Homo sapiens: one gene and its partners. The protein of the gene in region 2 purifies or fractionates together with the protein of the main gene of each other region. This does not show direct contact. Each region holds a gene or a part of one and is shown on either strand. Other genes may lie near its edges.

What was found.
Region 1: the proteins of HSPA12A (region 2) and IL22RA2 purify together in Homo sapiens (co-immunoprecipitation; one large-scale study listed by IntAct). This does not show direct contact.
Region 3: the proteins of HSPA12A (region 2) and ZNG1A purify together in Homo sapiens (affinity purification with mass spectrometry; 2 studies listed by BioGRID and IntAct, with this or other methods). This does not show direct contact.

The regions. Positions count from the first base shown.
Region 1 is NC_000006.12:137,171,510-137,175,264, reverse strand, and holds the start of IL22RA2 (interleukin-22 receptor subunit alpha-2 isoform 1 precursor), read left to right. Parts: upstream 1-1,620; 5' UTR 1,621-1,852; intron 1,853-3,755. UniProt on the Homo sapiens protein: Isoform 2 is a receptor for IL22. Binds to IL22, prevents interaction with the functional IL-22R complex and blocks the activity of IL22 (in vitro). May play an important role as an IL22 antagonist in the regulation of inflammatory responses.
Region 2 is NC_000010.11:116,735,972-116,739,626, reverse strand, and holds part of HSPA12A (heat shock 70 kDa protein 12A), read left to right. Parts: intron 1-3,655. UniProt on the Homo sapiens protein: Adapter protein for SORL1, but not SORT1. Delays SORL1 internalization and affects SORL1 subcellular localization.
Region 3 is NC_000009.12:169,042-172,696, forward strand, and holds part of ZNG1A (zinc-regulated GTPase metalloprotein activator 1A), read right to left. Parts: exon of another isoform or gene 3,448-3,655; intron 3,132-3,447; coding exon 3,040-3,131; intron 1-3,039. UniProt on the Homo sapiens protein: Zinc chaperone that directly transfers zinc cofactor to target metalloproteins, thereby activating them.

The DNA of each region.
Region 1 (3,755 bases), on a different chromosome or scaffold from region 2:
TTGAGCAGAGACATGAAGGAGGTGAGGGAGTGAGCCTGGACATCTCAGGAAGAGCATTGGAGCAGAGGGAACCTTGCTAATGTAGGGATGTGCCTGATATGTTTGAGAAACAGCAAAAAGACCACCCAGGAGGGAGCACCATGGGTTGGGAGGAGAGCAGTAGGAAATAAATTTAGAGGTAACAGGACCTGGTTATATAGGGCTTAGTAAGGGACTGGAAAAATGTTGACTTTCAATCTGAGTGAGATGGGAAGGCATCACAGGGTTCTGAATAAAATGTTCTATTCTGACATTTAATAGGAACACTCCACCTGATGCAGAGAACAGTGACAGAGGCAGGCAGACCAGTAAGGAGGCTGTGGCCACAGTCCACACAAGAGATGATGATAGCAGGTTACCAAATGGGTACAGTGGAGGAGGTGAAAACCAGTTGGATTCTGGTTATGCCATGAAGATATTTTCAGGATCAAACAATACATACAAACATACTGGTGCATGGGCATAATGATTGATGATATCTGGTAGGGGTTTCAAGGTGACCTTGGGTGAAGAATAATCAAAGCTACATATTGGGTACAATGTACATTACTCGGGTAAGAGATGCAATAATATCTCAGACTTCACCACTGTGCAATCCATCCAGGTAACCAAAAACCACTTGCACTATTGCACAGCTACTGAAATAAAAAAAATACATATTTTTTAAATGTTACCACTCCTTTATGTTTTGGTTTTCAGAAATAAATTTTAAAAAATTTTTTAAAGAATAATCAAAGCAAAATCAATAGCATCTTTTATCCAGAAAAATAAGAGTGAAGAGCAGGAAAGGTTAACCTCATTAAGCCCTATGTCCTATGAGTGGAGATTTTAAATAATATATTAGTGATCACAGTCCAAAAACTCAGATTAGTCATTGTGCTTATCACCTGTGTTTGAATAACAATGTTTCTTTTTCTTTTCTGAATTCAAGTTCACAAACCATTTTGAATTTTTGCATGCCAATTATTTCCAGAATGCCGAACTGCTTAAAGGACATGAATATTACTCGGTGGAGCTATTAATGTCCCAGCAAATAAGAAAGAACAAGTTGTTTCCCTGTTGTTGGCTCTACAGCTCTATAGTTTTCCAGAGAGGGAGAAGGGTGGTGTTCAGATTATCATTCATGATGAAACTTTTAAAAGATGCTCAGCTGCCCACCAAATCATAGGATGAAGGAAAGGGCCTAGCAGAAACACAGTTGCTCTGACTTCCCTTCAATGGACAGCACCAAAGTCATACTGAACACCAGTTTTTAAACACTTCTCTGAAAAACAATAAGAAACACTTAGCCCTTTGCTACCAAGACCTGGTTGAAGAAAATGCTGTTGGTTCCCTGAGGGCTGGCTCTGTAGTCTTGTTCATTTCTGCATCCCCGATGTCTAACACAGTGCCTGGCATATAACAGTTGCTCAATAAACATTTGTTTGACTGAATAAACGATTCGAGAAGCCAATGGACAAATGTTCTTTGACATCATTCTATCCCTTTATGGAATGTCTATTACAAGCAAAGAATAACACAAGAGGAGTTTCATAATACTCCTCAGGCCCTGAGGCTAACCAGATCTGATTTCAGCCCTCACTTTACCACTACTCGCTATAGAGCCCTGGTCAAGTTCTCTCCACCTCTCTATCTATGTCTCAGTTTCTTCATCTGTAACATCAAATGAATAATAATACCAATCTCCTAGACTTCATAAGAGGATTAACAAAGACAAAATATGGGAAAAACATAACATGGCGTCCCATAATTATTAGATCTTATTATTGACACTAAAATGGCATTAAAATTACCAAAAGGAAGACAGCATCTGGTAAGTAAACTTTATTTATTTATTTATTTATTTTTTTGAGATGGACTCTCGCTTTATCGCTGCCCAGACTGGAGCGCAGTGGCGCGATCTCGGCTCACTGCAAACCTCACCTCCTTGACTCAAGCAATTCTCCTGCCTCAGCCCCACTGAGTAGCTGGGATTACAGGCACACACCGTCACGCCTGGCTAATTTTTGTATTTTTAGTACAGACGGGGTTGCACCATGTTGGCCAGGCTGGTCTGGAACTCCACACCTCAAATGATCCACCCACCTCCGCCTTCCAAAGTGCTGAGATTACAGGTGTGAGCCACCGTGTCTGGCCACATCTTGTAGATAAACTTTAAAAATCTTTTTTCTTTGTTATGAACAATTTTAAGTACATACAAAAGTAGAGTATAATAAACCTGACACCCAATTTCAACAGTTATCAGCTCATGGATGGTAACCCCCTTTCCCAGGCCTTTGTATTATTTTGAAGCAAATCCCAGACATGACACCATTTCATCTGTAGTACTATAATAGGTAGCTCTAAAAAAAAATAAAAATAATAACCAAAATTCCACATCACACCTAAAAACAATGAAAAATGATTCCTTAATTAGATAAATGGTTGGTCTGCTGGAAGCCACAAGAAGAAAGGAAGAAGAGAATCAAATCTGTTCAAGACAGGGGCTTAAGCAAGTTCTCTCCAGAGTCAACACGATGATGGAAATACCCGTTGTCACCGTCAAGGTGGACTCTCCCTGCTGCGGAGTGGGGCCGAGGTCGGGGGAGGGCAGGGAATGAAGCCAGCATTTCATGCCTGAAAGGAGGCAGAGCGGAGATCCCCTAGTGACTAAAACTTTCTTACTTCCCAAACAAAACAGCATTTCATTTGAAACAATTCTGTACAAATTCTTCTGCTTCCAGATTGATGGGAAATTAGAATTTAATTTTATCTTTTCATCTACCTTGAGGCCTTGTTGACAGTGTTGGCTTTTATGCAGGTTCTATTACACAACTAGAGCTAATTGAACAGTGACAGAACTGGTCTGGTTTGTGAAATTTAATAGAGCACCAAAGCTCACGTTTTGGGGAGAATTCAGTTCTTAAATATGTTTTGCTTATCCCACTCCGCCTAATTTCCCCTCATTTGTTTGACAAAGTCAGCAACCCAGTGGAAACCTCAATTTCGTTCTCTGCTGCTCTCATCATAAAACCTCGAATTTAAATATTTTCCTTTTATTCTTAGCTGGAACTTGGAGCAATTTGGTGGCTTCAAAATGAGATCTATTGGTATTGAAGCCATTGAACATCAATAGTGCAAACCCACATTATCATCCCCCATTTAAATACCAAAGTAAATGTGAAGTGGTAAACATTAGCAGGGAAGTGAATAACAATGCTGAGAAGGTTGCAAGCTAAGGAGCATGAAGAGGTGAAAAGGGAACATAAAACGTGCTGCATGTTTCTTCTTTCAAAGCAGAAGCTACCTTATAAGCACCAAAAACTTCAGCTGGAGGAGATACAAGCCTGGATTCAGAAGACTGCCGTAGAACAGAGGCACTGGGAAACCTGATGTTATCCACACAAACCTTTCCACATAGGGCTGGCCTCAGAAAGCATGCAGCGCAACTGCCCTCCAATAACTGAAATTTGTTAAATGAAAATTGATAGTGGCCTGGTCCACTGGGATCTGGTTTCTGAGGAAATTTCTGATAAGCTCTCTTCTAAGACCCTTTGCTCAGGAATAAGGTTTTCCCTGCGTGGCCCCAGCTCCACCCAAGGCCTCACAGTCTCAGGCACCCGAGTGTCTAGAAATGTTCACAGGTGCTGGGTCATGGGGTTGGGATGGAGGGTCTACACTTGAGAACAACTCCTCTGCTCCTGTCTGTATGCAGAAGGCCATTCTTCCCTTTCTCT
Region 2 (3,655 bases):
TAGAAGGGTGAGATGAATTGGGGGTGGACAGAGTGGTTCGGACAGGGATGGCTCCTATGGTGACCAAGTCAGGGCTAGACATGAAGAGTGGAAACCAAGTCATTTTTTCCAGGGCACGGGCTTGAGGAGAGGGATGGTGGGCAGGCAGTTTTGCCTGGGTTGAGGGTATCTCTCGAGGCCTGGCATTGGGCTTTGGAGATGCCATCCTGGAGGTTCATCTTAATAAAAATAAACATTTTAAACGTTCACTTTTATTGAGGACTTAGTGTGTGCTGAAACCTGGGAATATTGAGTTATCTCATTTAGCCCTGACCACGTTTGTTGTTGAATGAATGACTATGAAGGACGCCCTGTGATCCCCATTTCACAGAGGAAAAAGCTGACAGTCCTAGCAGCGCACAGCTGGAAGGGGGCCTAGGTAAGGACCTAGGCCATGGGATGCAGGCCCCAGGTGGTCAAGCTGAACAGCCTCTCCTGGCATGTGCCTGGCATGTCATAGGCCCTCAGGGACTTGTGTTGAGTAGGCCTGCGGCTAATAGAGAGTGGCTGCCCTACTTCCTTCAGCCACCAAGCTGTAGATGGTAGTGACAGGGCGCTGGTTATAGCCCCCAAAGGAAGTAAGCAAAGGTCAGGGTGATGCTCTGGGCATTGCAGGTTAGGGTTCTGGCTATGGGATCCACTTCCGTGTCAACATCTGCTGCTGCAACTTGTCTGCCGCCTTGGTGGTCCTCCCATGCCTTCTGTGTATGTCCCTACACAGTGTCTTGTGTTTCCCAGAGCCTTGTGATCGCCTTTGGCCCTGGACACATGCAGTCCTCCCTGCTTGGGACATCCTCTCTTTGTTTAGCAAGGTCCTACTCATCCTTCAAAACTCAGTTAAGGTATCACCTCTCAGGAAGCCTTCCTGGGCTCATCCATCGGGATGAGATCTGCCTGTGTGGTCCCAAAGCCTTCGGTACTTAATGGTTGATAATTCCAACTAGTGTTTGTTGAGGCCCTACGATATGCCAGCTTTGTATGCCTGTATCTCATTGACTCCTCCAGCAACCCTGTGAGGCTGGCATTATTATTACCCCATTTTGCTGATAAGGCAATTGAGGGCTTTGAAAAACTTGCTAACTTGCCCAACCAGTGAATGCTGGAGTTGGGATATGAGTCAGCCATGGAGCCTAAAATCTTGTGCTGTTTCTCTCAATGCTCTTTCTTCCGAGAAAGGCGTGGACTATGTCTTTCATTTCCATTTTTTTTTACTAAGGACACTAGTAGGTGTTCAATAAATGTCTTACTTTTTGTTGAGTGTCAGTCAGCAAGACATGAGGGAACACAGCAGAGGGCAATGGCGTCTACATCTTGCCCACTCCGCAGTGGTGCTCCTGGAAATGTGGATGCTCAGGAGTGGGCCAAGCTGGAGGGGAGTCAGGCAGGGCTTGGACAATCTCAGAAGAGAAGCTGCTTTGATTCCAATAAGGCCTGGAGTGACGACTCAATCTTGTGGGGGCGAAATGCTCTCTTTTCATATAAATAGGCCTCTTTGGTAAGGGAGAAAGCATCTTTATTACTGCTGTGCATAATTAGAACAGCGGGGAGGAATCAGGGGCTTTTAATGAATGAGCAGCGTGTGGCAGGGAATGAGTGAGCGCCTGCCACTGCGGGCACCCCCAGGCCTGGGCATCCCCAGGAGTGAGCGGGGCCAGCGAGGAGACGACCAAGGAAGCACAGGCAGTGCTCAGAATTGAAACCTGCCCCACTGAAGCGGGCCCTGCTGATCCTTGCTGCGTTCCTGTCATTGCAAATGACTCCCAGGCTGCAGCTTTGCAGATGCTGCTCTGAGCTCTGCCAGGACCACCCCTCTTCTTCCAGCCTTGACCGTGACCTGGCAGCCGCAGATGTCCTGCGGGGCTGGCAGCTGCTCCATGGCACCCCTTCTGGGCAATCCTGAGCTGCAGAGTTTTTGCCTTGATTTTAGTCCCCTTATTTTTAGGGTGGCCATATGTCCTGGTTTGCTGGAATAGTTCTAGTTTATGCCTCTTTTCCTAGTGAAATTAGTAATAATGATATCTTTCACCTTCTAAGTATCTCAGTTTGGAAGGTGAATTATGTGGTTGCGCTCCTTATCTTTGTCTTCTCAGCCATCCGGGCCTCAAGACGGATGAGGGAGGCAGTAGGGTGTGCAGGTAAACCTGGGCTTTGGTCTCAGATGCTTGTAACATCTGGGTTTAACGTTGCTGCATCTGTTTTTTCTGCTGTAGACAAGGACGATTAATAATCTCTGCTCTACTGGGGTGCTGTGAGAATGAAATGAGAGAGTATTTGTAATGAGCTTAGGTATGAGCCTGGTACACAGAGGGCTCTCAGTAACTTCCAGTCATTTTATTATCATTGTTAGGTTGATTTGGGAAGCGTAGTGGTTAAATGTGAGATCTGGGGCCAGACTGCCTGGGTTCAAATCTGTGCTGTGTCATTGACCTGCTCTGTGACCCTGGCAAGTTACTTAACCCCATAAAGCCTCAGTTTTTCTCATCTGTAAAGTATGGATTATAACAGTCTCTTCTTCATATGGCCTTTATGAGAATTAAATGAGTTTTTATATGAAAAGCACTCAGAGTAGAGCCGGGCATGAAGTAGACATTGAATTAATATGAGCAATTATTATTGGCTGTTATTGTTATTATGAATAAATGTCCCAACTTACATTCTTGTAGGCAGGAGGAATTATCCAGTACATTTGTTTCCTATTGCTGTTGTAAAACTTACCACAAATTTAATGGCTGAAAACCATACAAATTTATTATCTTACATTTCTGGAAGTCAGGAATAAGTCCAAAATGGGTCTCCCTGGGCTAAAACCAAGGTGTTGGCAGAACTGTATTCCTTCTGGAGGCTCTAGGGGATAATCCATTTCATTGCCTTTTCAAACTTCTCGAGGTGACCTGCATTCCTTGGATCGTGGCCCCTTCCTCCATCTTCCAAGCCCATCACTCCAGCCCCTGCTTTCATTGCCACATCCCTTCTCTGACTCTGCCCCTCCTCCTCCCATTCCCTTTCTAAGGACACTTGTATGAGGACCTCTTATTAGGCCTACTTGTGTAATCATTTCCCCATCTCAAGATCCTTAATTTAATCACATCTGCTGACTCCCTTTTCCCATAGGAGATAACATAGTCATCGGTACCAGGGGGCTATTATCGAGCCTCTCATAGCCAGAAAGATTGGAGTCTTGCCTAGGTTTGGGGTGTTGGAGAGTCTTCTGTGTCCCTCAGGAGCTGTCTGAAGTTTGGAAATGACTCCTCCTCCGTGTTGTACATTAGGTCAGGTTCCTCGTGCACCTGCTGCGGGTTGCCCTCCCTGGAGTTTGGATTGTGGATCAACCCTTGACTTCTATTCAATCTCAGTAGGGTCCTTAGAGACATTGTTACTTTTAGGGCTGATTTAGCCCCTTCTGAGGGGCCCATGACTCATTGAGATCTGAATAAAAAGGTTTATTGGCTCCCAAGCAGGGAAAACAATCAATGCATTAAACAAGTTATTGAAATGTCTATAAAATGTCACATTATATTTGCTTTTACTATGTAGCAAACCACCCCAAAGTTTAATGGGTTAAAACAATAGTCTTTTTAAAAAAATTTATTTTAAGACAAGGTCTTCCTCTGTGACC
Region 3 (3,655 bases), on a different chromosome or scaffold from region 2:
TATTTCATAAGGCTATAGCTACCATAGACAGTGATTCCTCTGATGGATCTGGGCAAAGTAAATTGAAAACCTTCTGGAAAGGATTCATCATTCTAGATGCCATTAAGAACATTTGTGATTCATGGGAGATCAAAGTATCAACATGAATAGGAGTTTGAAAGATGATTCCAGCCCTCACAGATGACTTTGAGGGATTCCAGACTTCAATGGAGGAAATAACTGCCGATGTGGTGGAAACAGTAAGAGAACTAGAATTAGAAGGGGAGTCTGAAGATGTGACTCAATTCCTGCAATCTCATAAGAAAACTTTAACTAATGAGAAGTTGTTTCTTATGGACGGGAAAAGAACGTGGTTTCTTGAGATGGAATCTACTCCTGGTGAAGATGCTATGAACACTGTCAAAATGACAACAAAGGATTTAAAATATGACAGAAGCTTAATTGATAAAGCAGGGTTTGAGAGGACTGACTCCAATTTTGAAAGAAGTCATACTGTGGGTAAAATGCTATCAAATAGCATCATGTGCTATAGAGACATCTTTTATGAAAGGGAGAGTCAACTAATGCAGCAAACTTCATTATTATCTTATGAAATTGCGATAGCCACCCCAACCTTCAGTAACTACTACCCTGATTGGTCAGCACCCATCAACATCGTGGCAAGACCCTCTACCAGCAAAAAGACTATGACTTGCTGAAAGCTGAGATGATTGTTAGCATTTTTTAGCAATAAATATTTTTAATTAAGGTATGTATGTTTTTTAGACAATTCTATTACACATTTTATAGACTACAGTATAGTATAAACACAGCTTTTTTTTTTTTTTTTTTTTTTTTTTAAGAAATGGGGTCTCATGCTGTCATCCAGGCTGGAGTGCAGTGGTGCAATCATGACTCACTGCAGCCTCAAACTCCTGAGCTCAAGTGATCCTCCCAAGTAGCTGGGACTACAGGCCTGTGACATCACACCCGGCCAAAACGCATAACTTTTATATGCAATGGGAAACAAAAAAATGTGTGTGACTCACTCTATTGTGATATTCAGTTTACTGCAGTGATATGGAACTAAGCCCACAATATCCCTGCGGTATGGCTGTACAGTATAAGAATCACCTGAAGGGCTTATTAAAAACAGCTTGCTTGACCCCCTCCCTTAGAGATTCCGATTCAGTAGATCTGGGTTGGTCAAGAATTTGCCTTTCTAACAAGCTCCCAGCTGAGGCTGAGGCTGCCATTCAACATACTACCAAGTAGCACTGGCATAGAGAGATCCCTGGAATAAAATGTACCTACTTGTGTGTGTGTGTGTATGAATGTGTGTGTGTGTGTGTGTGTGCGCATGTGCATGTGCGTGTGTGTGTGTGTGTACAGTCTTGCTCTGTTGCCTGGGCTGGAGTGCAGTGGCGTGATCTCGGCTCACCGCAACCTCCGCCTCCCAGCTTTCAAGCGATTCTCCTGCCTTAGCCTCCTGAGTAGCTGGGATTATGGGGTGCGCCACATCGCCTGGCTAGTTTTTGAATTTTCAGTAGAGACTGGATTTCACCATGTTGGCTAGGCTGGTCTTGAACTCCTGGCCTCAAGGGATCCACCTGCCTCAGCCTCCCAAAGTGCTGGGATTACAGGCATGAGCCACCATGCCCAGCCCCTACTTGTATATCACAAAAGTGAGATGATTACTTTTCAACTTTCTTCTTTGTATTTTTTAGGTATTTAAATTTTTTTACAATGAATGTTCCATCTTTACCCAAACAATAAAATCTTTATTGTAAAGAAAGTTAGAAGCAAGAAACATTAACATTTTTTATAACTACAATTTGTATAAAAGCTTTCTCTGTGATCTTTAGTTTTTCTTTCTTCCTCTGAAAAGCTGAATCGTGTTTAATTAAACTCTCAAAAGTATCAAGTTTTTGTCTATAAAATGGCAAAACTGGCTATGATGAAATAAACTGATATTTGCTATTTCTAATAAAAGCATACAATATATTTTTCTTTCTTACCAGATTCAAATATTTAACACCAACATATTAGTCCAAGTCCTATCATCAGTCAGATTTATCAGAAAGGTATGAAAACCCATGCCTACTATAAGGACCAAAATAGCCTAATTCAATACTACTTTGAAAACATGGGGATGATGTTATTATGTAATTGTTTTAAGTACAATAACCACTGATCACATTTGAACTCTCAGGATACTTCAATATTTCTTTTGGACAACTATGACCTGTTGAGTAAATTACCCCCAAATACTTTAATATAGTTTTACAAATCGCCCCAATGCCAGAGACCCAGATCAAAAAAAAAAATAATGGTATGGGTCAGATTCACAGAATAAGCACTAACTTTTATGCAAAATGAAAATAAAGATTTTATCTAAAAGTTATTTGGGGAAAATAAGCAGACTTTATCAAGAATTAGAGCTTGGTAAGAAGGTAACAGAAACCCATTGTTAGAAACAGGTTGACTCTGTGTAGCTTTCCATAGTAGAGTTCAGAGTTTCCTGTCATGATTCCCTTATCAATGCAGTGTAATAACTACTTACACAGCACTTACATTGTATTAGGTATTATAAGTAATCTACAGATGATTTAAAGTATATGGGAGGATGTGCATAGCTTATAGGCAAATACTACACCATTTTATGTAAGGGACTTGAACATTAATAGATTTTGGTATCCTCAGAGATTCCGGAACTAATACCCCATGGATGCCAAGGGACAACTGTACTTAGAGGTAGAACGTCTCTGCTCTTCCTACATGTCCTTATTTTTAACAACTTCTGTTCTTACAAATAATCCTAAGTCAATCAATAAAACTTCAAATTCTATTAACAGCTTAAAAGTACCAAGAAATACTCTGTTCATTCATTCAACTGCCAAAGAAAATGACAACCGAGTACTTTTCCTCTTTTAAACCAAAAAAAGTTTTTGGTTTAATACTAACAAAAGCTTTAATCCTCATTTTAGATATTCCTCTAATACATCTATTTACAATATATCACAGAACTATATTCTGGTTATTAATAATCTCACTTCTTACCAGGGTCTGCTAATCCAGTGGTCTCTAACAGTATGTAATCAAATTTCCCCTTCTTTTGCATCAAATTCTCAATAGCTCTAAGGCCACTGTCCCTGGAGAATACCAAAACATAATTTACAGTTAATTACCTAAATATTTTGAAGTGATTATTATAAACACTTTAAAATATATTCAACAACCCGAGACAAAAGTACCCTTGGGAATGTGAAAATTTAACTCACTTCTAACCTTCTAACAAAATGTCCGTCCCATATTTACCAGTGAGAAAACAATAGATGCATATATATAATAGGTAAAAAGAAATCATATACATAATACTTTATCAAAATTAAAAGCAGAGGAAACTTTATCTGACCAAGTATCTTTTTATAGCTTTATGAAATTTTTAAAAACCAACATACAAAATAATGATAAAATGTATTAACTATAGTAGTTTAATATAATAGCTAAAGAGACACTGATATTAAACACCATATAATTCTATTTTACATTAGGATGCAAGGTTTTAATTTCCTTTTTTCTTATTTTATCAAAAGTGAAGGAAAATCCTTAATAGATTATATTTTGGTTGTTCAAGAAAGTCTGTTATAATTTTATCCTTGCCAAAACATTTGAC